2 linked regions of the Homo sapiens genome follow. The protein of the gene in region 1 purifies or fractionates together with the protein of each later gene. This does not show direct contact. Each region holds a gene or a part of one and is shown in the gene's direction. Other genes may lie near its edges.

Region 1 (9,589 bases):
GGAGGGGCCTAGCCTTTTGCTTCTTCATGGGGGTGGGGGGAGGGGTGTTCCCCACTTGTCACCCCTTTCCCCACCAGAACCATATGGAAGAAGAGCAGGCAGATCTCCACCTACCTGTTCATGCAGCTCCCTGCCTTCCTCATGTTTTTCTTCAGTCTCCCCAGGAGGTGTGGGGCTGGGACCTGAGGGGAAGGTCCCCAAAGGGTTTGTGACTCTCCTCCCTGTTGGCCTGACCTGATCCTACCTTGTCTTGGTACAGCACAACCTCAGCATCCCTGAAACAGGAGTGTCAGGGGTTACTGCCATCCAATAGGAGATGGGGTGGGGGTCTGATCTTTATTTTTGGGGGCTGCTGGTGGAGGGAAAGCCTGGACTGAGAGTTAGGTCTGGTGGGGTTGCTGAGAGGGCCTAGCGGCCTGCTGCTCTGTGAAGGGCTGAGCCCCGTGCCAGTTGTTAAACTGAGAAGTTTTAACTTGTTTAGTGAATATTCAGGGCTGTCTCTACCCTTCAGATACACAAAATGGAAGGGGAAGGAAGGCGGCAAGAGAGGGCTTCTTACACTTTTTTCAATGCCTGCTTGAGAAAGAGGAGGCCCCTCGCGGAGCTGGTTTGCCTTCTTTTGTGTCCTGGTTTGATTCCTTATGGCTTCCGTTCTGTTCCCCCTCGCAGCCTGGCCTGTTTTAGGAAACTCAGGCTGAGAGTATCAGTTGCGTGGTGGTAGTTGCATTGTTCCAATTACCACTGTGTGTGGCCACATCCCAACAATTAAAATGCAGAAAAACACAAATTCACTGTCTTGACTTGATCCTAGAGGTGGCTGGGAGTTTGCTGTTTGTCCAAATGCCTCATGAAAAGCTGGAGAGTTTGCTTCATTCCCTGCTCCTCATAGCTGGTTAGCCTGAGGCCTGGGGTCTCTAGGGTAAAATCCTGCACTTAGGTTCCCTCTCTGGTTGATCTTTGAGGGCAGCAGAGTTAAGAAACCAAGAGCAGAAGTGATATAAGCTTTAGCTTCTCCCGTAAGAATATAGGGGAAGCAGCTGAAGAGAGCTCCCCGGAAGCTAGAATTTTGTTCAGGGTGGTAATAATTATGCATGAAAATGATAGTTAACTGTAATGATGATTGACTTCTCTTGCACCTTTCTTCCAGAGAACTCCAGGTACATCCAGGTTTATCTCTTTGCTCTTCCTTGTGCCCTCCTTCTAAGGTGTGAGTGGGGTAGAGATAATTCCTCTTTTTTGTAGAGTGATCTGCCCCCAAGGTCACAGAAGGAAGAGCCCTCTTGGGCTTTTCTTAGTGTGCAGGTGAGGGAGGATGGTATTCAGCCAGAGAGATGGACCCTATTGCCTTCTTCATCTTATTGATTTCATTACTTCTGACATTCTGAGGCCTTGAAGATTCACAAACGGGAACGAGAAATGGTAGTCTGTGTGGACTCCTGATTTTTATAGGTCAGATGGTACATTTTGTACATTTTAATATGTTATATTGTTCCTGTGACAGGTTAAGATTATTCTGCCCACTTTACATATGGGTAAACTGAGGCCAAGGAGTATTAAATGATTTGTCAAAACTCTTAGCAAATTGGATTAATAATTAGATTTCTTGATGATTTGTTCTCTTGACTAGCTAATGCTACACACATTCTCTGGTAAGCTGTCAGCTTGCTGCTCATTTCCGGGAATAGATAGAACAAAATCAAGACACTGGCTTAACCTCCCCTTTTCCCTTGAGCAAGGCCCCTCAGGTAATTGTGTGGGCTTGAAGCCTGTTATCTGATACAGTTAGTTTGCTTCTATCAGAAGTTGACCACGAGAAAGAATCTTGGTTAACTGTATCCATGGACTTTGCATCAGATGAGGCTAAAAACTTAGTTGAACAGTCATGGAGTTGTTGTTTACGACGTCTGTAGAGTTGAAATGTATTGGAATTACCCTGACCATTTCTTTATCTTCCCATTTGATAAGAAAACAAACACTGTATCTATTGGAAAACAATAATATATCAGATGTTTAGGCTGTGGGAGGACATAAAATCCTATGTACTCAGGTCTAAAGCAGAAAGTCTTGCCTACAACCACTGTTCTTCCTTGTTCTCTTATTACTATTTCTGTAGTTTAGGAGAAGGGTACCTCTTTTCACTTCTGACTGGAAGATAAAATACTGGGCTGATCTTGATGGAAATAATCATTTGGGCATCCCTCTCTCTCACTTGAGCAGCTGTTTTCTAAGTGGTGCTGGTATTCCAGTTAGAAACAACAGAGCATGAACCAGTTTAAGGGTAGCAAATAAGTTTCAACTTGATTGCCAACTCTATTTTATTTCATATCTGGACTGCCAAGTTCATAATTTCTGAAGCTGTGTTTAGGCTTAGCTGGAAAGAGCTGTGATCAATTGATGTCTGCCAGAGGCCTGGCTTAGGGGTGCTGTGGTATGTGTGCCATGCATTTTCCATCTCTGGACCAGGTGCATCTCTAATATCACTTGGGGCTGGTCCCTCTAATTGGCAGACTCAGCAGGCATGACTGGAGAGGGAAGTCCCAATGGTGCTAGAATGGTGCTGCAGTGGCAGAAGACGGCTCACAAGTGAGGTCTGGAAGAACAACAGGGAAGACATCCATCATTTGCTCCAAAGTGTGCAAGTCAAATCCTGGGGAGAATCATGATAACCCTGATCACTGAGCAGCTACAGAAGCAGACTCTGGATGAGCTGAAATGCACACGCTTCAGCATCAGTCTGGTAAAAGACCAGTCTTCCTGCTTCTCCACGACCCCCTCCCCCTTTTTTCTGAGGCTGATTGTTGCTATTACTTTACTCTTGTCCTGTGCTGTATGAATCATGGTACTTAACCTGGAAGAGCCCACTAATGGCTCAAAACCCAGCCCAAAAGGAAGGGGGCAGGGATTTTTCCACCGATAGAGAAGGGACAGCAAAACTTGGGTGGAGAAGGGTTTGAGATGTTGGAAGATGTGGATTGTTTGACTTACTAACTTTGGGAAGACAAGAGGAAGAACACTTAATGTCCCTAACATCCCTGTAGCTCATGAATCGCAGAGGAGAACTGAAGAGGGCTTCCTAGAAATCTGTCAGTGTGTCCTGAATCCAAATCATGATGGATATTCTCTCTTTCTTAGCCTTTGCCTGATCATGCAGACATCTCCAACTGTGGGAACTCTTTCCAGCTTGTGTCTGGTAAGGCATCGTGTGTGTTTGTGTACGTGTGTGTACCCATTCCTCTCTCCACACATTTCTATCATTGGTTTCCAGTGACCAGGGCTAGCGAGCCTACCTCTAGAACCTTCTTGCCAGGGTCAACTTCTGAGATTGACAGTTGTCTTTCATGTTCTAGCATGAAAGTTATCTGGTTGGTTTGCTCTTATTCTAGCTTTGTGGGGACTTGTATAATCTAATTTTTTGAATAGGTAATACATTCACATGGTTCAAAATTTAAAAAATAACAACAAAAAGGTTATGCTGAGAAAAGTCTCTCTTACTCTCCCGTTCCCTATCTACCCAGCTTCTACCACCTCCCTAAAAGTATTAGTTTCTTATACAGTATATGTGACTAGAATTTCTTTATATAAAAAGAAGCAAATGTATATATTTATTTCCTTTCTTTTTTAAGTTCTCGGATACATGTGCAGAACGTGCAGGTTCGTTACATAGGTGTACATGTGCCATGGTGGTTAGCTGCATCTATTTTATTTCCACGTTTTTAACACAAAAGGTTGCATACTATATATTATTTTGTACCTTTAAAAAAAAAAATGGGACCGGGCCTAGTGGGTCACACCTATAATCCCAGCACTTTGGGAGGCCAAGGTGGGCAGATCACCTGAGGTCGGGAGTTCAAGACCAGCCTGACCAACATGGAGAAACCCCATCTCTACTAAAAATATAAAATTAGCCAGGCGTCGTGGCGCATGCCTGTAATCCCAGCTACTCGGGAGGCTGAGGCAGGAGAATCACTTGAACCCAGGAGGTAGAGGTTGCGGTGAGCCAAGATTGCGCCATTGCACTCTAGCCTGGGCAACAAGAGCAAAACTCTGTCTCAAAAAAAAAAAAAAATTGCTGGGCACAGTGGCTCATGCCTGTAATCCTAGCACTTTGGGAGGCCGAGGTGGGCGGATCATGAGGTCAGGAGTTCGAGACCAGCCTGGCCAACACAGTGAAACCCTGTCTCTACTAAAAATACAAAAATTAGCCTGGCATGGTGGTACACACCTGTAATCCCAGCTACTCGGGAGGGCAAGGCAGGAGAATCACTTGAACCCAGGAGGTGGAGGTTGTGGTGAGCCCAGATCATGCCACTGCACTCCAGCCTGCACAACAAAGCAAGACTCCATCTCAAAAAAAAAAAAAACAAAAAACAAAAAAAACTTTAATATAGCTAGGAGATCTTTCCCTATCAGAATGCTGAGTATTCATTCCCTTGTTATATATAGCTACATATTATTACACTGCATAGATGTACAGTGGCTTATTTAATGAGTTTTCTATTGATGTGCATTTAGGTTATTTCTAATCTTGTTTGGATACATAAAACTGTAGTGGGCCAGACGTGGTGACTCATGCCTGTAATCCCAGCACTTTGGGAGGCCGAGGTGGGCAGATAGCATGAAGCCAGGAGTTCGAGACCAGCCTGGCCAGCATGGTGAAACCCCGTCTCTATTAAAAATACAAAAATTAGCTGGGCATGGTGGCAGGCGCCTGTAATCCCAGCTACTCAGGAGGCTGAGGCAGGAGAATCCCTGGAATCCAGGAGGCGGAGGTTGCAGTGAGCCGAGATCGCACCCACTGCACTCCAGCTTGGGCAACAGAGCGAGATTCCATCTCAAAAAAAAAAAAAAGAAAGAAAAAAGAAACTGTAGTGAATAACCTTGTACATATGTCATTTTTTCACATGTGAAAATATATCTGAGGTATAAATTCGTAGATTATTAATTACTGAGTTAAAGGGCCCCTGATCGTAGGGACATTTAGATGGAGGCATCACTGGTGGACAATCAGAACTCCCTAACTCGTGCTGCTCAGCAGTTCTGCATCTCATTTTCTTTTCTGGGATACCTAGCAAGGGAAGTGAGTTGGCAAAAACATGTTCATTCAGTCTCTTCCTCCTGTTTATTAAAGACTTGCTGAAAGCCAGGTATTGTGTCATAAGTATAGAGCAGGAACTCATGGTCCCTGCCCTCATAGTGGTTAGTAGAGGGAAGAACTATAGACCAAATACACTCAGTATGAATTTTGCCACCATCAAGTCTGACTTCGTATACTTGTCGTTTGCCCCAAATATCCAGCCCCTGCAGAATTCCAGCCAGCTAGCCAGAGGAGTTTGGATTAGGCCCTTTGTCCCTTAATGAGCCGTCTCCCAAAAGTCACAATTTTGGTTGGAATACAGTGAGTGAGGATTGTTTCTTTTAGTCCATTTTCCCTTCCTTCTCTTGGTCCCTCCATCTGTTTGGATTTAAGAGAAGGCCTAGGGGAAGGGAATCGGAATATGTGGGTGGCCAGACAGAAACGAAGATGAGCAGCACAAAGTCAGGGTTTCCCAAGCCCAGGTTTCACTGTCAAAGGCCTTCCCCACCCTGTTTGCCCTCCCTAGGAATAAAAGTGATCTCTTACCTGCCTGATTACCTCTTACTTCTTGGCAGTCCTAACTCCTGACTTGGTGCTGTTGACACATGAGAGGAGGAAAGGCCGAGAAAGAAGAGCATAGGCCTGCTTTTCAGCATCCAGGGCAAGCGTGGGGGAGGGGCGAGGGAGAGATGAGCAGGACACTCACAAACGTGTTTGTTTCTCTTGACTTCTTTTACCTTTGAGAGGGAGTGGCAGGCAGTAGATGAAATGTTTTTGATTCCAGGTAGTTGGTCACAATGGAGGCAATAGAGCATAGTGGTTTAAAAACCTAGCCTTCGCATCAGACAGACCTGGATTTGAATCCTCCTTTGGTCTTTTGAGTGCTATGTGATTTTGGGAAAGTTATTGAATTTCTCTTATCTGTGAAATGGGGATAATGATAACGATACTACCTACCTCATAAGGTTTTTGGAAATTTTCACATAAAATGCTCCATACATTATGTGGCAAATGGTAAGTTCTTAAAAAATGTAAGCTATCATTAATATTATTCTTATTATAAATGCCTTCCAGAAGGTGCTTCCTGGAGGGGCCTGCCCCACTGTTCCTGTGCTGAGTTCCAGGACAGCCTCAACTTCAGCTACCATCCCTCAGGCCTGAGCCTGCACCTCAGACCACCCAGTCGGGGAAACTCCCCCAAGGAGCAGCCCTTCTCCCAAGTCCTAAGACCTGAGCCCCCAGATCCAGAGAAGCTTCCTGTGCCCCCTGCCCCTCCATCCAAGAGGCACTGCCGCTCACTCTCAGTGCCCGTGGACCTGTCTCGCTGGCAGCCGGTGTGGCGGCCCGCCCCCTCCAAGCTGTGGACTCCCATAAAGCACCGGGGCAGTGGTGGAGGGGGTGGGCCGCAGGTGCCTCACCAGAGCCCCCCAAAGCGGGTCTCCAGCCTCAGGTTCCTCCAAGCTCCCAGTGCCTCTTCTCAATGTGCCCCAGCTCACAGACCCTACAGCCCTCCTTTCTTCAGCCTGGCCCTGGCCCAAGATTCCTCTCGACCCTGCGCCGCCTCCCCTCAAAGTGGCTCCTGGGAGAGTGATGCTGAGTCCTTGTCACCTTGCCCACCTCAGCGCCGCTTCTCCCTGTCACCCAGTCTGGGCCCGCAGGCAAGCCGCTTCTTGCCCTCTGCCCGGAGCTCTCCCGCATCCTCCCCAGAGCTGCCCTGGCGACCTCGAGGTCTCCGCAACCTTCCCCGAAGCCGCTCACAGCCTTGTGATCTGGATGCCCGCAAAACTGGGGTCAAGCGGCGCCACGAGGAAGACCCCCGGCGTCTGCGGCCTTCGTTGGACTTTGACAAGATGAATCAGGTGGGACCAGCAAGACTAGGGGAGCTTAGATGGGAGTGTGGGGACTGTTCTGTTTCCACTTTTGAGCTAGCCCCTAGCTTCATTACCCTGCCGCCCCCACCACCAACAGCACCTCCTTTAGCTCTTAGCTAGGGTGACCTACCATCCCAGTTTGCCTGGGACTGTCCCAGTGTTAGCACTGAAAGTCCCCCCATCCTGTGAAATGCCTTAATCCTGGGAGTTAGAGAAACTGGGGTGAGACCCATGTTAAACCTTCCAACAGAGATCCCAAATTGTCCTGCAAGAGGTACTTTCCCTCCTTTCCAAGAATGCACAAGCTGCAAAAAATTCCATCAGTACCTACTCCTTGTGCCCAAAGCTGTTTTTGCCACTTGCCTGTCACTGCTTCAAAGTGGGTCTGTGAGGGCTGAAGCAAGATGGGCTGCTACAGTGTATTCATCTGTTAGACAAATGTTTTTTGACTTCCTGGTGTGAGTACAATTATTGTATGTATGCACTTTGCTCACTTTTTTCATATTATTCTTTCTAGACCACTAGGTTACAAACCTCTTTAAGAATTAATTAATTTTTTCATACAGTCGTCCATCCCATCTGCAAACATTTACTGACTCTGACTAGGCACTGGCAGTACAAAGTAATGAAACACTGCAGATGATGTTCCTGCCCTCACGGAGCTTCTATTCTTCAATTCAATGGAAACAATGGGCTCCAAATTTTGTCAGAAAGTTTACAAACGCCAGGCATGGTGGCTAACGCCTGTAATCCCAGCACTTTGGGAGGCCAAGGCAGGCGGATCATGAGGTCAGGAGATTGAGACCATCCTGGCTAACACGGTGAAACCTCGTCTCTACTAAAAATATAAAAAATTAGCCGGGCGTGGGCCGGGCACCTGTAGTCCCAGCTACTGGGGAGGCTGAGGCAGGAGAATGGCGTGAACCCGGGAGGCAGAGCTTGCAGTGAGCCAAGATCACGCCACTGCACTCCAGCCAGGGTGACAGAGTGAGACTCCGTCTCAAAAAAAAAAAGTTTACAAACCTCACCCTAAAGAATTCTTGCCTTCAGGTGTAACTGTCTTCTTTGTTTGTTTGACAGAAACCATACTCAGGAGGTCTTTGTCTCCAAGAAACAGCCCGGGAAGGCAGCAGCATCTCTCCACCATGGTTCATGGCCTGTAGCCCCCCACCCCTCTCTGCTTCCTGCAGCCCCACTGGGGGTTCCTCCCAGGTGCTGAGTGAAAGCGAAGAGGAGGAGGAGGGGGCTGTGCGGTGGGGTCGGCAGGCGCTGAGCAAGCGGACACTGTGCCAGCGGGACTTTGGGGACCTGGACTTGAATTTGATTGAGGAAAACTAAAACTGAGAGGCTACTTCCTGGGGCCACACAGACTGACTCTCTCATGGCTACTAACAAGTGTCGAGTCCCCAAGGCTGGGGGCCGAGCCTGGGAATGGGGGTGAGTGGAGGGCTCCGACTCAGGGCAGCTGGAAATCTTCTCGCTCCAGCAAGCTCGACCATGCCAAGAGACTGGCCGGGACAAGATAAACGGAGCTGGTGGCGGGAGGGACAGCCCCAGAGCAGACCCTTCCTATGGCGGCCCTGAGTGTGAGTATCCCTGCCACCAAGAGAGCAATGGGCAGGGAAGGAAGGGGTCTGCCGACCCCAGCTCGGGGAATTTCACTAGCCCCTTTGCTTCAAAGGGCACTTGTGTCTTAGAATTTGGCCAGGGTGGGGGGTTGAGTCAGCCTCCTCAGAGAAACTGCGTGAGAGTGTGTGCGTGCATGGGAGTGTACTTGTGGAAAGGTGTGTTTGCGTAGCCTTAGGGAAGGAAGGCAATTGCTCCTTAACAGCAGAGTATCATGATACCCCCAGGATCTTGAGTTTTTTACAGGATGTTGGGTTTGCTCAAGGAGTCAAGAGGAGGGCACCAAGTTTTCCTTTTTTCTAAATAGCTCTGGAACCAGGCTTGTAATCCATAGCATCACCGACTCTGCAAAGGATTTCATTTTGGGGTACAGCAGGGTGTTTTAAGTGCTGTGACTTCAGCTAATGATCTTTTCTTCAGCCCCACCCCCTCCCCACTAGCTCGATCTAGTATATTGGGGAATGCAGGTGGGGGGTGTCACCATATTTTTTCTGAGCTGGCCTTTTTTTCTCATCAGATTGTCCAGGCTATATTCCACCTGCCTCTTTTGCCCTCTTGAGTAGAGTTGCACACAGCACATGGGCAACTGAAGCAGGGTTGAGGGGCTCTCTCTCTCTCTCCTCTGCTGATGGGACCCTTTTCCCCTCACCCTCTGCCCTTCTAAGTCATAGACTAGGTAGGAAGGCCCTATATTGGTCCCCAGCATCTACTGAGGCAGACCTGCAACAGAAGTGGCATTCAGTCCCCAGCAGACATGGGTGAGCTCACCCCAGCACTGCTGTTGGGAAGGTGACTGCAGGAAACCAATTCTTACAAGATCCAGGCCCAGCCTTTTTGACCTGCTTGAGAGGGAAGAAGGGGTGTTTAGCATTTAATAGTTTGCTTGTCTTCCACTCCTGCCAGGAAGTGTTTATTTGCCTCTAATTGGGCCTGAGAGACCATAGGGAGGTTGGGGCTCACTGAGGGATTGGCTGAGGATGTATAAAGCAAAGGCTGTGAGAAGCAGTTGGGAGTTTGG
Region 2 (16,205 bases), on another chromosome or scaffold:
ACACCAGGAATTTATTTCCCACAATTGTGGCAGTCAGAAGTATGAGATGAAGGTGTCAGCAGGGTTGGTTTCTCATGAGGGATCTCCTTGGCTGTAGATGGCTGTCTTCACGTTCACATGGTGTTCCACCTGTGCCTATCAATGTCCTAATCTCTTTTTTTTTTTTTTTGAGACGGAGTCTCACTCTGTCACCCAGGCTGGAGTGCAGTGGTGCGATCTCAGCTCACTGCAAGTTCCGCCTCTCGGGTTCACACCATTCTCCTGCCTCAGCCTCCTGAGTAGCTGGAACTACAGGCGTCCGCCACCATGTCCGGCTAATTTTTTTGTATTTTTAGTAGAGACGGGGTTTCACCCTGTTAGCCAGGATGGTCTCGATCTCCTGACCTTGTGATCCGCCCGCCTCAGCCTCCCAAAGTGCTGGGATTACAGGCGTGAGCCACCGCGCCCGGCCGACATTGTTCTTTATAAGATCTGCCTTGCAGGAAGGATCAGAGAGAGTGCCTGCCAACCAAAGACAAAGAGACGCCATACCCCAGGTCTCTCACATATCAGGACTTATAGGGTCTCCTTTTTTACCTAACTATACACTTAAGACCCCTCTAAGACTGCCTTGTAGACAGCAGGGGAAGAAGGGCTCTGTCAACAGGACAGGGGAGAGTTGACCCTGTAGTTCTAAATTAGCAGACTTGAAAAAGATTGTTTGAAAGGAGTAGTAATAATATACATTGGAAAGATGTCACTAAATCTGTCCAGAAAATTATTTTGAATCTACAAAGGGATACCGTTTGTCCAGTGGAGTGAAACACTGAAAGAGACCTCTTTGTTAATTGAGGTTTTTAACTTCTAGAACATGTGGCATGACGTTCTTTTGATTATGGAGTGTAGGGGTGGGTTGCCCCTACACACCTGTGGGTGTTTCTCGTAAGGTGGGACGAGAGATTTGGAAAAGAAAAAGACACAGAGACAAAGTATAGAGAAAGAAATAAGGGGACCCGGGGAACCAGCGTTCAGCATATGGAGGATCCCGCCAGCCTCTGAGTTCCCTTAGTATTTATTGATCATCTGTGGGTGTTTCTCGAAGAGGGGGATGTGTCAGGGTCACAAGACAATTGTGGGGAGAGGGTCAGCAGACAAACACGTGAACAAAGGTCTTTGCATCATAGACAATGTAAAGGATTAAGTGCTGTGCTTTTAGATATGCATACACATAAATATCTCAATGCTTTACAAAGCAGTATTGCTGCCCGCAGGTCCCACCTCCAGCCCTAAGGCGGTTTTTCCCTATCTCAGTAGATGGAGCATACAATCGGGTTTTATACCGAGACATTCCATTGCCCAGGGACAGGCAGGAGACAGATGCCTTCCTCTTGTCTCAACTGCAAGAGGCATTCCTTCCTCTTTTACTAATCCTCCTCAGCACAGACCCTTTACGGGTGTCGGGCTGGGGGACGGTCAGGTCTTTCCCTTCCCACGAGGCCATATTTCAGACTATCACATGGGGAGAAACCTTGGACAATACCTGGCTTTCCTATGCAGAGGTCCCTGCGGCCTTCCGCAGTGTTTGTGTCCCTGGGTACTTGAGATTAGGGAGTGGTGATGACTCTTAAGGAGCATGCTGCCTTCAAGCATCTGTTTAACAAAGCACATCTTGCACCACCCTTAATCCATTTAACTCTGAGTTGACACAGCACATGTTTCAGAGAGCACGGGGTTGGGGGTAAGGTTATAGATTAACAGAATCTCAAGGCAGAAGAATTTTTCTTAGTACATAACAAAATGGAGTCTCCTATGTCTACTTATTTCTACACAGACACAGTAACAATCTGATCTCTCTTGCTTTTCCGCACAATGGAGGGCTACCCCAGGCATTGACTTTCACCTGGCAGAGAGGGGAAGCGAGCAAATAGAGGATCGCATGAAAGGTTTTAAAGGGTCAGGTCTAGGTGTAGTGGATATCACATCTTCCACTTTTTATTGGCCAGCACCCACTCACAAGCCTCTGCCTAAATGCAAAGGAGACTGCTGAGCAGCCACTTCCCAGCTGCAACTCTCCCTGTGGAAGGGGAGCCAGTCTCTGGTGGACAGCTCATGTTTCTACCACATACAAAGAAGCTTCAAAGTGGCTCCAACCCTAGCTGTGAGTCAGCATCACTTGTGGAGCTTTGACAAAATGCATGTGCCTGGGCCCCAGCCCCACAGATTCTGATTTAGTTGGTTGGGCTGGTGCCTGGGAGAATCTGGATTTTCGAAGGCTCCACCAATGATCCCAGTGCACAGCCAGGCTTGAGAGTCACTGGTATGCCTTACAGTGTACACCTCTGGCATTGCCTCTCAACAGTTTAAAAAAAACTTTTTTTTTTTTTTAGACAGACTCTTGCTCTGTCACCAGGCTGGAGTGCAGTGGTGTGATTTTGGCTCACTGCAACCTCCACCTCCCAGGTGCAAGTGATTCTCCTGCCTCAGCCTCCGGAGTAGCTGGGACTACAGGAGCACACCAACATGCCCAGCTAATTTTTGTATTTTTAGTAGAGACAGGGTTTCACCATGTTAGCCAGGATAGTCTCGATCTCTTGACCTCGTGATCCACCCGCCTCGGCCTCCCAAAGTGCTGGGATTACAGGCATGCGCCACCACACCCAGCCAAATAAAAAATCATTTCTTAGAGTTTTCAAGGTGAACAATGTTGTTTAGTTGGCTTCCATTTTGTATCTGCTGGTAAAATATTCACCATGATAAACCCAAAACAGGACTGTGAGTCAATACTTTTGCACAGGTTTTCAGTAATAGAGTATATGTAATGATTAATAATATATAATGTAATTTATTTCATATCAACATACAACACAATAAAATAATGCAGCCATGTAGTATTGATGATTTATTGATTTCTGAGAAGCTCACAGCTGTTCTTTGTGCCATGAAATCATTGTACTGCATTTAGAAAGCTATTCTTTTGTTTTTTATGATTGGAAACATTTTATATTCCATTTTGTGTAATACAGAACATTTTAAAATACATTTCACAATTTCTAAATTTCGATATAATTATTAAAAAATGATTACTTCAGACTAGTCTCTTACAAATGTTACTAAACACAAATATTATACATAAAAGGCCATCTTCATTAAATAGATTAGAATGAATTACTCCTTCAGCTACATTCCCACTGTAAGAGAATACATTCTTGGGGAATATATTCTGTGTATATGTATTATGTCTTATTTTATGTTTTTATCATTTATATATATTTTTCATTTTTAATCTTTTCTACTTAATAGATTTATTTATATTTATACTTTTATTTTATACTCATTTTTATTTACATGGTCTCTGTAGTTATTAGATAGTGAGCTCTTGAAAGATAAGGCTAGTATTATGTTCATTGTCATTATCATCTACAATTATGTTACACAAACAAGCACTCAAATGTTCATTACAATGACTGGAAATCATTTGAACCATTTAACTTATTCAGTGTCTATTATGTCAGGGAGTACAGCAATGAATAAAACAGACCAAAAAAAAAAAAAAAATCCCTGCCCCATAAAGCTTACATTTTGGTGGAGAAAGACAGATAGTAAACAAATCAATACACAAAATATAAAGTCTCTGATCTAGTGATGAGAAAAATAAAGCAGGGGAGTGAGATTAAGCTATTACCAAAGGGGGTGGCACTCCCATTTTACATGGGGAGGAAGGAAAGATCTCAAGAAAAGGGAAATTGGGGTTAGATTAAAGAATTTGGGCCAGGCATGGTGGCTCATGCCTGTAATCCCAGCACTTTGGGAGGCTGATGTGGGAGGACTGCTTGATTCTAGCAGTTCGAGACCAGCGCGGGGAACACAGGAAGACCTCATCACTATAAAAATTTTTAGAAAAAATAAATTATAAAAAAAAGAAAAAGAAAAAAAGAATTTGAGTAAAAACTATAAGAAGGGAGGGCAATCCGTGTCTATGTCTGGGGCGGAGCTCTGCAGGGAGAGGCAACACAAGCATCAGTGCTCTGAGGCTGCAGCAGGAGAGGTGTACACAGAACAGCAGGGAGGCCAGTGTCAAGGCAGTGAGCAAGCTGGAGAGTGCAAGGGAAGGGGCCAGAGAGGTGAATGGGGTTCTCTAGGCCACCTTGACTTTGAGATGAGAAGAGAGCTTTGAGTGAAGGGGTGGCTTTGCTTACATTTTTAAAAGTTCAGTCTGGCTTTTTCATTTTGTCTTGGATCTTTGAGGCTGCTAGAACAGAATCCCATACACTGGGTACCTTGTCAACAACAGAAATAAAGTCCAACATCAAGGCACCTGCAGATTCGGTGTCTGGTGAGGGCCTGCTTCCTGGCTCATAGGTGATGCCTTCTCTATGTGTCCTTATATGGCAGAAGGAGTGAGGGAGCTCTGTGGGGTCTCTTTTATAAGGACATGAATCCCATTTATGGCAGCTCGGCCCTCATGACCCAAACACCTACCAAAGGCTCCACCTTCAAACACCTTCATATTGGGGATTAGGTTTCAACATATGACTACTGGGGGCACCTAAACATTCAGTCTATAGCAAGTTTGTATTAGGGTACAGGGGGACAAGAGTGAAAAGAGGGAGAACAGTTAAGAGATTAGTGTAAGAATCCAAGTAACAGATGATGGTGGCTTGGACCAGGACACTGGCAGTGGGATTGGTAAGCAGTGATCAGATGCTAGATATATTTAGAACAGAACTTACAAGGAGTGAGAAAAAGAGAGGCAGCAAGAATGATTCCAAGGTATTTGGAGTAACTGGAAGGATGGAGTTATCATAATAGAGATCGGGGAGACTGAGTGCACAAGTTTGGAAGGGAAGACCAGCAGCTCTGTTGTGGATATGTTAAGTTTGAGATGCCTATTGGAGATCTAAGTGGAAATGCAAATAGACATTAGACATGAACTCTGGAGTTCAGGAGAGATCCAGGTTGGAGATACAAATTAGGGAGTTTTCAACCTATAAGTGTTATTTAAAACATTGAGACTGCCTGAGCTGACAGGGAAGTTAGTGCAGACAGATAAGAAGTCTGAGGACTGAATCCTGGGGTACCCCAAGCTAAGGTATCCAAGATATTAGAAAGGCAAGGAAGGAGGAAAACCAGTGTGAGGCACCACAAGGACAATGTGTTTCAAGAAGGGAAATGATCAACTGTGCAAATATTGCTGGGAAGTCAAGAAGGAAGACTTGAGATCAGGACTGAGACCTGGCCCTTGGATTTGGCGATATGGAATTTAATGGAGAGTTGATAAGAAACGATTGGAAAACCTGATTAGAATGGGCTTGAGAGAGTTGGAAGAGAGGACCTGGAGACGTTAGTAGTAGCAAATCTTTCAAGGGTCTCCGCCAATGAGTCATCGGGAGGTAGCTGGAGAAGGAGTGGAATCAAGAGGGTTAGAGATGCACCCCCCCCCACCCCCTCATAGCCAGGCGCGGTGGCTCATGCCTGTAATCCCAGGACTTTGGGAGGCCGAGGCGGGCGGATCACGAGGTCAGGAGATCGAGACCATCCTGGCTAACACGGTGAAACACCGTCTCTACTAAAAAAAAAAAAAAAAAAAAAAAAATTAGCCGGGCGTGGTGGCGGGCGCCTGTAGTCCCAGCTACTTGGGAGGCTGAGGCAGGAGAATGGCGTGAAACCGGGAGGTGGAGGTTGCAGTGAGCCGAGATCGCGCCACTGCACTCCAGCCTGGGCGACAGAGCGAGACTCTGTCTCAAAAAAAAAAAAAAAAAAAAAGCCCCTCACCCTCCACGCTGCCAAGAATGAGAAAATGGCATGCTTGAGGGAGATCTGGATGATCAAGTAGAGGAAAAATTTGGTGTTTTAGGAAAGGAAAGGGAGAATTGCGACAGTCTTTGGGGGGTGGCGCGTGAGGGGAGGGAGATGACCTGGTCCTAGGTAGGAGATGGGGCAGTCATTCCATCTAGGGGAATAGGAGGGACAGGACCGCCGAGTAGGAGGGCACAGATGATGGTGGGCAGTAAACTTGGGGAGGAAGTTAATTACCTAGCGGGATAATAGATGAGTTCTTTCCATTTTCCAAATGTTCCAATATGTATTACTACACAGTTTCACAAGATATTAAAGGAAACAATTCATTCCGACATACGGCTTGTATGAGTGAAAACAGGGAGAACGGTGAGAGCAGTTTTAAAACTTACTCCCTAAACGCACTCCAGGGTCGGAAGCGACCTCTAGGGGTTCATTTAGACCATTACTTTTTTCTTTTTCTTGCTCTTAAAAGTATAAAACAGCACGGTCCACATTTAATATTATTTTTAAAGAAACACGATCAGTTTAATTTAGAAAAGAGTATCAGGCATGTGAGTAAAATAAACATAAACCATCTGCAGTCCAAGCTGGAGTTGCTATTATCATGACTAAGAGTTTTCTCTCTAAATATATCATTCTCTATAGCACCATTAATATTTATGTTCATTCTGCTTCTTGAATGAGTGGTTTTATTAAACCAAGAGGAGGGACAACTAGTGGGCTATTTGATCCAGGTCTTCTTGATGCTTACATGGAGTACAAACCCCACATATTTTTCATTGCTGGTTTCACTTGATTTGGTGTTGTCACTGGGTTTCCTCTGCCTGGGATGTTCTCATCCCCTGGATTAATTAACTCACTTCCTCATGGGAGTCTTTCCAGACCTTCCAGGCTACCTTAGGGTCCCCCCATCATGCAAGCTCACACACTCCATGCTTCTTTCTGCCTCATCCCATTTCTCCCAACTGTCATGAAAGAGTCAATTCTGTCATTACTGTTTAATGTTTTTTCTGGTAAGTCATGAGACCCATAATGGCAGAGACTGTGTCTGGCTTGTTCACTGCTGTCTCCTTAGCACTTAGCTCAGTGCCCAGCACTTACCCTGTACTCAATAAACATTAATTGAATGAGAACACACTATCCTGCCGGAGACTCTTGCCCATGTTCCTATTCACATCTTTTGGATCCCACTGCAGAGGAGACTGAATTTCAGAGATGAATTTTTATTTCTAAAATACAGTTTGCAATTGCTTTAGGTGCATCTGTGACAGATGCAACAATTTGTCACAAAACTGTCCCAGCTATTCTTTCAATAGCACAGTCTTCAGGATTGAAGCGTTAAGTTTCCAGCTCTCCTGCAAAGAAACTCTTTGTGACAAAGGCTGAATCCTTAGATATAACCCTGACCTTATCAGACCATTTATTTCCCAAAATATAACTAAGGGAAAGACAGTAAGATGCCAATACAGGGGGCAGTATAATGAGACCATTTCACATTGTGCAGCCTTATCCATGGGTCCTAACCCATACTGTCCCCTTATTTCCAGATTTGGTAATATTCTGGTGCCTCTAGGTCTTAGTTCAGCAACAGTACCACTAAAATGGACATGGTGGTAGTATTTATCCACCTGAGGTCTTTAGGCCAGCCCAGCCTCATCTTTGAAATTTTTGTGAGTGCTTCTATTTACTACCAGAGACTGAGAACAGGGGAATGGCTGGTTGTCAAATGTCACTCTGGTCTATAATCCCTGGATCCTAGACATGTGACATGGAATGGAGTGGGAACAGAGTGAAGTGCTCTGAGCAGGAAGTAAAGCTTGTCTCCAAGTGTACCCGGAATGTCTGTTATCATACCTTCTATAATCTCCTACATACAACTCCCCCAGTTTAATCTCTTGGTATTATAATTTTTGGTGTAGTACTTTTGATGCATGCCCTAAAATAAATTCTCTTCTATTGCTTGTCCAAAGGTAGCAGCGTTTTCCTAAAAATCACAACTTTAAACTTGGTTGTTCTGGAGGCAAGTGTGATGAGTAAGTCCACTCCATAAGAATCAATAAGAATTTCTTTTATTCTAGCTGGGCGTGGTGGTGAGCATCTGTAGTTCCAGATACTCAGGAGGCTGAGGCAGGAGGGTCACTTGAGCCTATGGTTTTTGTTTGTTTTTTTGTTTTGCTTTTTTTTTTTTTTTGAAACAGGGTCTCGCTCTGCCACCCAGGCTGGAGTGCAGTGGCACAATCATAGCTCACTGCAGCCTCGACTTCTTGGGCTCAAGAGATCCTCCCACCTTAGCCTGTCGAGCAGCTGGGACTACAGGCATGCGCCACCACGCCCGGCTAATTTTTTTGATATTTAATAGAGATGAGGTCTTGCTATGTTGCCCAGGATGTTCTAACTCCTCAAGTGATCCTCCTGCCTCAGCCTCCCAAAGTGCTGGGGTTACAGGCGTGAGCCACCGTGCCCAGCACATGTCTTCTAAAAGCTGCTGTTTCTTCCTTTTTCAGGAGTTCTTTCCCATACTGTTCTTCTGGATGACTCCTCGTCATCCTTCGGATCTCAAATGAAAGGTCATTTAGAGAGGCTTGGCCTGACCATACAATTCAATTAGTTTCTTACCCCTTTAGTCTCTCTCATAGACCCTGTTATTTTCCTTCATCTCATTTATCACAAGTCTTCATATATTTATTGCGTTGGATACATTCAATTCTGTCGATTTTCTTAGAATGTAAGGTTTCCAAGGGAAGGGACTTCGTTTTGTTCACTTTTGTATTCCTAGAACCTAGCACAATGCCTGACACATAGCAGGTGTTCCATAAATATCTGCGGACTGACTGTCTATTTCACTTATCCTTGTTCCTTGTACTGCATTTCAGTTCTCGCTACTGCAGTGTAACCTCCAAGAGACAGGAGAAAATCATAATACCCCCCTCCCTCCATCACTGAGTGATACTGAGACGGCGTCCTTGCACGTTTGAGCAGCTGCTGCCTTCTCCTGGGAGGCTGTCAAGTACCCCAAGGTGCACAATAATTCTTTTAGTAATTGCCTGACTGAGGCAAATCAGTAGAGCTGTCAGAAATGCTTTCAAACTTAACATTCATTGGGTTCTTGGGCACCTGAAATTGCAAACAATTGCATTACAATTAAGTGAGAATTAGCAGAATGTTACAGTTCTTTAACAATTTGCGTAACAAACCGAGGCGTCCTACGCCATCTCGCTGAAATGAAATTCGGATGTAGACACCCTTGCGCTTCAGGACTCTACGCTCTTGCAGCAGCTCCTCTGCCCAATGGGGGGCGGCAGCATCTCAGTAACTCACTCGAAAGACGGGTAGGCGGGAGGAGACATTCGCGTTCAAAATCTTTTTGCCTCTATCCGCTCGCCGTAGCGCTTTAGCCCGCTCGAGTTTCAATGCGCGTTGTTGCTTAACGAAGCAGAGTCCTACACACTGTCTGCTGCTCTCCTGATCATGGCTTCTCCGAGTTCTTTCACCTACTATTGCCCTCCATCTTCCTCCCCCGTCTGGTCAGAGCCGCTGTACAGTCTGAGGCCCGAGCACGCGCGAGAGCGGTTGCAGGACGACTCGGTGGAAACAGTCACGTCCATAGAACAGGTGAGGTGGCAGGACTGGGCGAGGCGCCCGCGCGATGTGTTCTGGGAGCGCGAGTCCCGTTCGTAGGGCCGCCCGGGTGCGGAACTCACCGGGGAACTACGACTCCCACAGCGCACCGCGGTGCCTTTCCTCTGGGAAGCTCCGGGCGCCCAGGCTTGGGCTTCGTCGTGGAGCGTTTGCGCGGCCAGCTTGGGGAAGGGTCGTTTCAAGGTTGGGCTTGGAGGAGAGGGCAGTAGCCGAGTCCCCTCTGCCCTAAAGAACGAGAAGAATCGTGTTCTATGCCTGGAGGACAGAGGCAGCCCGTGCGGGTCGGACAGCCCACTCTGTTCTGCCAGTACTTCGGGAGGTTCTGGGGTGCATAGTGCACTTTTCCCAACCTGCCCTCAGCTTCTGGAGGCAGAGAGCAGGGCCAGGCTGCTGTCATGCCGTTTCACGATCTGTTTAATTTTTGACCTACAGTGCCAGGTTTGGGGGCCCGCCTCGTGGGTGGGCATTTTGGTAGTCATTCAGCCATTTGAGCACCAGCTACGTGTCGGACACAATATTAAACGATGGAAGTACAAGGAAATAAAACAGCTCCTGACCAGGAGCCTGGTTGGGGGACAGGCAGGAAAACAGTTTGGAAAGTGATCTAATAGAAAGAATGGATTTTGGACTACTAATCATTCCCTAAGGCCTAGAAGTAGGATCGAACCTATCATTTTGAAAAGTGTTTGGCGAATGAGTATATATTCATATGCCCAAAACCATAGTTTTGTTTTTCTTCTTATTCCCTAATTGGAATTGTTCCCAAGGTTGCTATGTGGAACTGTTTATCCATCTGTCCCTAGGAGAAGTGGTTAGGATAATTCTTAACACTAATAAATGAACATTCTGCTGCTTACTGAAATAAGATCTCTTAGTGAGATCAGTCTCCAGGCTTTACCTTGGAGAGACCTGTTTTGTATTTCCTACTTTAAGTTGGAAGCCTGTACTTTGGCAAAATTAGTAACAATAATTGTTTTATTGTACAGTTATGACTAAATAGAATTATAAATTTATAACAGAAACAAGGGCTTGATACGTGGTTATTCACAAAGTAGCAGAGAAAATATTTTAACTGGAGATTTAAACTTCATGGAATTTAGGGTAGCAAAGGAAATCCTCACCTCTCGAATCTAGCTAATTCTCCAGGTTGGTTTGCCTACCAGTGTGTCCCAGGGAAGGCTGACTGCAAAAGATTGTAAAGAAATTTCCCATTGATGAAAAACCTACAGGATCTTTGCAGAATTCCTAAATGATGGATTGCTGAGTTGATTCAGGTCAAGTGTTTTACTTATTATCTGACCTTAGACTATGGGATTGCCTTTTTTTTTTTTTTTTTTTTTGAGATGGGGTCTCGCCCTGTTGCCAGGCTGGGATGCACTGGCTTACTGCACCCTCCGCCTCCCGGGTTCACGCCATTCGCCTGCCTCAGCCTCCAGAGTAGCTGAGACTACAGGCGCCCACCACCACGCCTGGCTAATTTTTGTATTTTAGTAGAGACAGGTTTCACCATGTGGCCAGGCTGGTTTTGAACTCCTGACCTCCAGTGATCTGCCCTCCTCGGCCTCCTAGAGTGCTGGGATTACAGTCGTGAGCCACTGCTCCTGGTGCGAGTATCTTTCAAATCTAGACCCAACGGTATGGCAGACAGTAAAGAATCTTATATTTCTTTTTCATGTTGTTATTCCAGCACACATTATTAGAGTCTAGGATGAACAGTTTCAGGTAGTAGGATGATAATGTTGTATCTCATTTTTGTGGCCTTCCTCACTGTTTTAATAATCATGTTAGTGACCATTTATTGAGTCTCAGCACAGTGCTAAATGCTCTCCATATGTGGTATCATTCAATCCTTTCACTTTTTATGGATGAGAAGACTGAGGTTTAGAGACCTACCACATTGGTAGGTTAATGATACATTCATCAAAAGTAACAACCTTGTTAGGAGGAGTTGTTTACAGAGGATATACTAGTACTCTTTCAGTTTTAACTAAAGCTTCCATTTACTGATAGCTCAATTTTGTGCCATTGCCAGTAAAAACAAATTGATGGCTGACACCTGTAATCCCAGCACTTTGGGAGTTCGAGGCGGGAAGATCACCTGAGCCCAAGAGACCAACTTGGGCAACATAGCAAGACCCTGTCTCTACCAAAAAAAAAAAAAAAAAAAAAAGTAGCTGAGCGTGGTGGCATGCACCTGTAGTCCCAGCTACTTGGGAAGCTGAGGTGGGTGAATTGTTTTTGAGCTCAGAAGTTCACAGATGAGCCATGATCGAGCCACGGTACTCTAGCCTGGGCAACAGAGTAAAACCCTGTCTCTTAAAACAAAAAACGACTATACTGATTTTGGTACTGGCCTGGGCAACATAGCAAGACCCTGTGTCTATTTAAGATGAAAGCTTTTCAAATTAAAAAAAAAAACAAACAAAAAATAAATGCTTGTTACCTGCTTCCTATCTGATTATCAGAAGACTCGGTTTATTTGTTAAGCAATAATTTGGTAATAGGAGTTAAACCTATAAATAGTGGAAGGAGTCCTTAGCTGTGAGTCGTCTGTTCCATTCGTTGATTCTCATTCATTCAGCAAATACTTGAGCGCCTTCTACGTGCCAGGCACTGTTCTAGACACTCGGCATAAGTTGTTAAACAAAAGAGGCCAAGTTGATGCCTTTATGAAACTGTTTCTAGGCCAATGAGGCAGTCAATTAAAAGAGTTAATATCTATAGCTATCTCAATATAAAATGTTAATTAGAAACGCTGTGGAGAGTAACACCTTGGGATAGAGGGGATAGGGTGTGTCAGGAATGGGTGGGGTGGGAGCAGGGGAGGTCTTCATATAAGGTGTTAAGGGGAACCCTCTGGTGACAACACATGTGATCTGAGACCTGAAGTCTCAGATGAGGGAGGAAGCCATCATGGATCTGGTGCAAGAGTATTCTGGGCAGAGAAAGCAGCAAGCACAAAGGACCAAGGCAGCAGAATGCCAGGTGAGCAGGGGGCTTAGCAAACCAGAGAGTAGGAGATGGGTCGGATCATGTAGGGTCTCATTGGCCTTTGGAAGTACTTTAAAATACCCTGACTGAGATGGAGAGCCACTTGGCTGTATACCTGCCATTTACTGCCCCAGATTCACTTGGCCCTTTTCTAGCCTGCTCTGTAGATGTGCCCCAGGAGGGGGCCCTGCACTGACAGGTTGCCTTGCTTTATGGCTGCGGGCCATGGGAAGTATTGCTGGGGGTGACCGAGAAGGAGAAGAATGAGACCACTGTATTTCTTCCCTCCTGCAGGCTTGTGTGGGGTGGGGTTTCCTTAGACTTAAGGTCACATTTCCTGTCATGTGCCTTCTCTGCGGAGCTCTTTGTCTCCCTCCCTCTCCATCCTTCACACCTTCAGGTCTATGAGGAGTTCAGGTACCCCTGATTTACCAGCTCCAGATACTGCATTTTCTCTTGTGGTTTCCCTACACCTGCCCACATCTTTGTAAATAGTTCCTTTATAAACTCTCCTCAAATCACCCACTTTGTGCCATCTGTTTCCTGCCAGGACTTAGACTGATCCATGATCAGAGAGTTTTGAGCAGGGGAGTGACACAGTCTGACTAGCATTTTAACAGGCTCATTTAGGTTACTGTCAAGAGTAGATGGTGGGGAGTGAGGGTGGATACAGGGAAACCAGTTAGGAGGCTATTGCAGTATCCTGGGAGAGAGGTGACGGTGGCTTAGCTCACAGTGACGGTAGTGGAGGTAATGAGAAATGGTCAGCTCTGGATATTTTTATGAAGGTCTCTACCTTGCTAAGCTGTTTTGTTAATGCAGATGCAGGGAGGGCCTTTCATGACACTAGAGAACAAGACATGGTTGTATTGTTAGTGCCTGCCTTCCTTATTGTGCCATCTGGAATCATCCCATTGCAGACACTCTGATTCAGGCCAGTAGGTTAATACTGATAGTCTCAGAGGTAGCAGCCTTGCCAAAAACAGGTGTTTACAAAAGATACTACTGTTTTTCTTTGAGTTTGTCTTTGAACAGAGGCAAACGCGTCCTCCACTTTAAATGGCATGGTGTCATTGAACCATTGGCATGGTTCATTGTCAATGAAGTGACTTGAACTCTGAGGGGAATATAAGAGAATTATTAGTCTTGATCCCTGCCCTCAAAATTCTTTTATCTTAGAGAGATAAAAAAGAATATGCTGTAAGGCCGAGTGCGGTGGCTCACTCCTGTAATCCCAGCACTTTGGGAGGCTGAGGCTGGCGGATCACTGGAGGTCAGGAGTTTGAGACCAGCCTAGCCAACATGGTGAAACCTCATCTCTACTAAAAAAATACAAAAATTAGCTAGGCGTGGTGGTGTGCACCTGTAATACCAGCTACTCAGGACACTGAGGCAGGTGAATCTCTTTAACCTGGGAGGCGGAGGTTGCAGTGAGCCGAGATTGCACCATTGCACTCAAGCCTGGGTGACAGAGCAAGACTCCATCTCAAAAAAGAAAAAAATAAGAAGAATATGCTATAGGCAGTCACAGAGTGCTAAATTATAACTGCTTTGCACGAGGATTTTGGGGAGTTGAAAAGCCATCTGTGTGGGCTGAGGTGGTCAGGATGACTTCATGGAGAACGTGGAACTGGGTGGGCTGTAAAAAATAGAGTTTGGGGCAGCCATTCAAGGAGGGAGAGCTGTTTTGAGGGAAGACTCAGGCTTGACTGGGGGCGTTAAGATGGCTTACCAGGAACGGAGGGTGCAGGTTGGATGTGGTAGGAAATGAGGTGAGCTGGGCGGGTGGGCCCCTATCAGGGTATTAAGAGGCAGGTGATGTGCTGGCTTCAGGTTCGGGCAGTGGGCCACCACATATCCTAAGGAGGGACCAGCGGAACAGAATCCTGACCTGCTGTTGACTTATTTCAGCTTATAGGATCCAAAATATTAGTAAATGGAGGTGGAACAAATCACTAAATATGATAAAACTTCCCAACTTTTTATGCCTCTGATAGAAGGGACTGGAGCTCTGCTTGGTTAGGTGGTCAGTAGGCTAGCTTTCTGAATCCATTTTATTTTATTGAAATTCAGCATATACCATATTGCCCAAGTGTAAAGTAATCCTGCATATCAAAATTTCCCCATTAAAAAGTCCAAAAGGTTGTTTTTGGTCAAGTTGAAAATACATGTACTTTTAGGTATATAAGTGAAAAATACCTGCTTACAAAATTTACATTTAAATTTGGGTCCATATACCTACTTAAAATCACCTACTTTATAAAGTAACACTAATTTAGAAATGCTGGTTTTCCTCCTCTTCTTATTTATAAAATGTTTCTTTTCAGACTCTTCACATGCATCTTTGACTTCACTATTTTTATCATCACTGGAGCCACTTTTTGAGTCAGCCAATGTGGATTTCCGGACCACATGTTCAGTTCTTGAGATACATCGTTTTTGAATATGAATAAGGTGTTACCACTGAACAGTTTATTCCAAGTTACAAGTATCCACTTGCATAACATTAGACTTTTTTTTTAAGAAAGGGTCTCACTTTGTCGCCCAGGCTGGAGTGCGGTGATGCAATCACCACTCACTGTAGCCTTGACCTCACAGGCCTGCCTTGGCCTACCAAAGTGTTGGGATTACAGACGTGAGCCTAGAATTTTTTTTTTGCAGTGTTTCCAGTTGGTATATATTTGTGGTCACTGCAACTTAACCACTTTATTACTTTTTCAAATGATTTCTATTTTTTTTTAAAGACAGGGTCTCACTCTGTTTCCCAGGCTGGAGTGCAGTGGCATGATCATGGCTCACTGTAGCAACTTTCCAGGCTCAAGTGATCCTTCCACCTCAGCCTCTTGACTAGCTGGAACTACTGGCGTGCGCTACCATGTTCGGCTACTTTTTATATTTTTTTGTAGAGACAGGGTTTCCCTGTGTTGCCCAGGCTGGTCCCGAACTCGAGCTATCCGCCCACCTTGGACTCCCAAAGTACAGGCATGAGCCACCGCGCCCAGCTAAAATGATCTTTAAAACGTTGGTCTACTGGCCAGGCATGGTGACTGATGCCTGTAATCCTGGCACTTTGGAAGGCCAAGTGGGTGGATAGCTTGAGCCCACAAATTCGAGACAGCCTGGGCAACAGGGTGAGACTCCATCTCTAAAAAAAGTAAAAAATGAATAAACAAAATAAAAAGCTGGCCTTACAATGGCAGTTTACACATGGAAGTGTGAGTTTATATCTCCAGGGATAATTACTAAATTTGTGTTTAATTTATCTTGTTTCACTGATTACCATTAGCCAAAGCAGCCTTAACTGAGGTTGTTTTAGGGTATTGTGTCATCCCCAGCTGGTACTTTGTATTCAAAATAAGGAAATTGCAAAACTTCCTACAGCAAGAGGTACTTTGTAAGTATTTGAATATAAAGTGACTTGTATTTTCTGAGAGAGAATTTTTTTTGAAAAGTCTTGCCTTATATTTCATATATTAAATGACTCTTCTACTGCAGCTTCAATGACATGAATCTTAGGCAGCAAATCTACTTTCTGAAACATTCTGTCTCTGGGAGAGGAGGGAGATATAGGAAGCAGAGAAGTGATAGTGCCTGGTATGAAAGTTGGTGCCTCATGAGATTGGCTTTAGATAGAAGCTGTGAAAGAGAAAGTGCCAAATGCATTAGTTGTTGTTTACCACTTACTGAATGGAAACTATTCTCTGCTTTTATTGATTGGATTTCTTTTTTTTTTTCTTTTTTTATTTTTATTTTTTTTGAGACAGAGTTTCGCTCTTGTCGCCCAGGCTGGAGTGCAG

Evidence for each region.
Region 2: the proteins of FAM53C (region 1) and FNTB purify together in Homo sapiens (affinity purification with mass spectrometry, with the first as the bait; 3 studies listed by BioGRID). This does not show direct contact.

The regions. Positions count from the first base shown.
Region 1 is NC_000005.10:138,338,677-138,348,265, forward strand, and holds part of FAM53C (protein FAM53C), read left to right. Parts: intron 1-2,507; 5' UTR 2,508-2,540; coding exon of another isoform or gene 2,541-2,588; 5' UTR 2,589-2,659; coding exon 2,660-2,737; intron 2,738-3,132; coding exon 3,133-3,190; intron 3,191-6,148; coding exon 6,149-6,933; intron 6,934-8,025; coding exon 8,026-8,283; 3' UTR 8,284-9,589.
Region 2 is NC_000014.9:64,977,708-64,993,912, forward strand, and holds the start of FNTB (protein farnesyltransferase subunit beta), read left to right. Parts: upstream 1-9,187; 5' UTR 9,188-9,246; coding exon 9,247-9,390; exon of another isoform or gene 9,391-9,406; intron 9,407-16,205. UniProt on the Homo sapiens protein: Essential subunit of the farnesyltransferase complex. Catalyzes the transfer of a farnesyl moiety from farnesyl diphosphate to a cysteine at the fourth position from the C-terminus of several proteins having the C-terminal sequence Cys-aliphatic-aliphatic-X.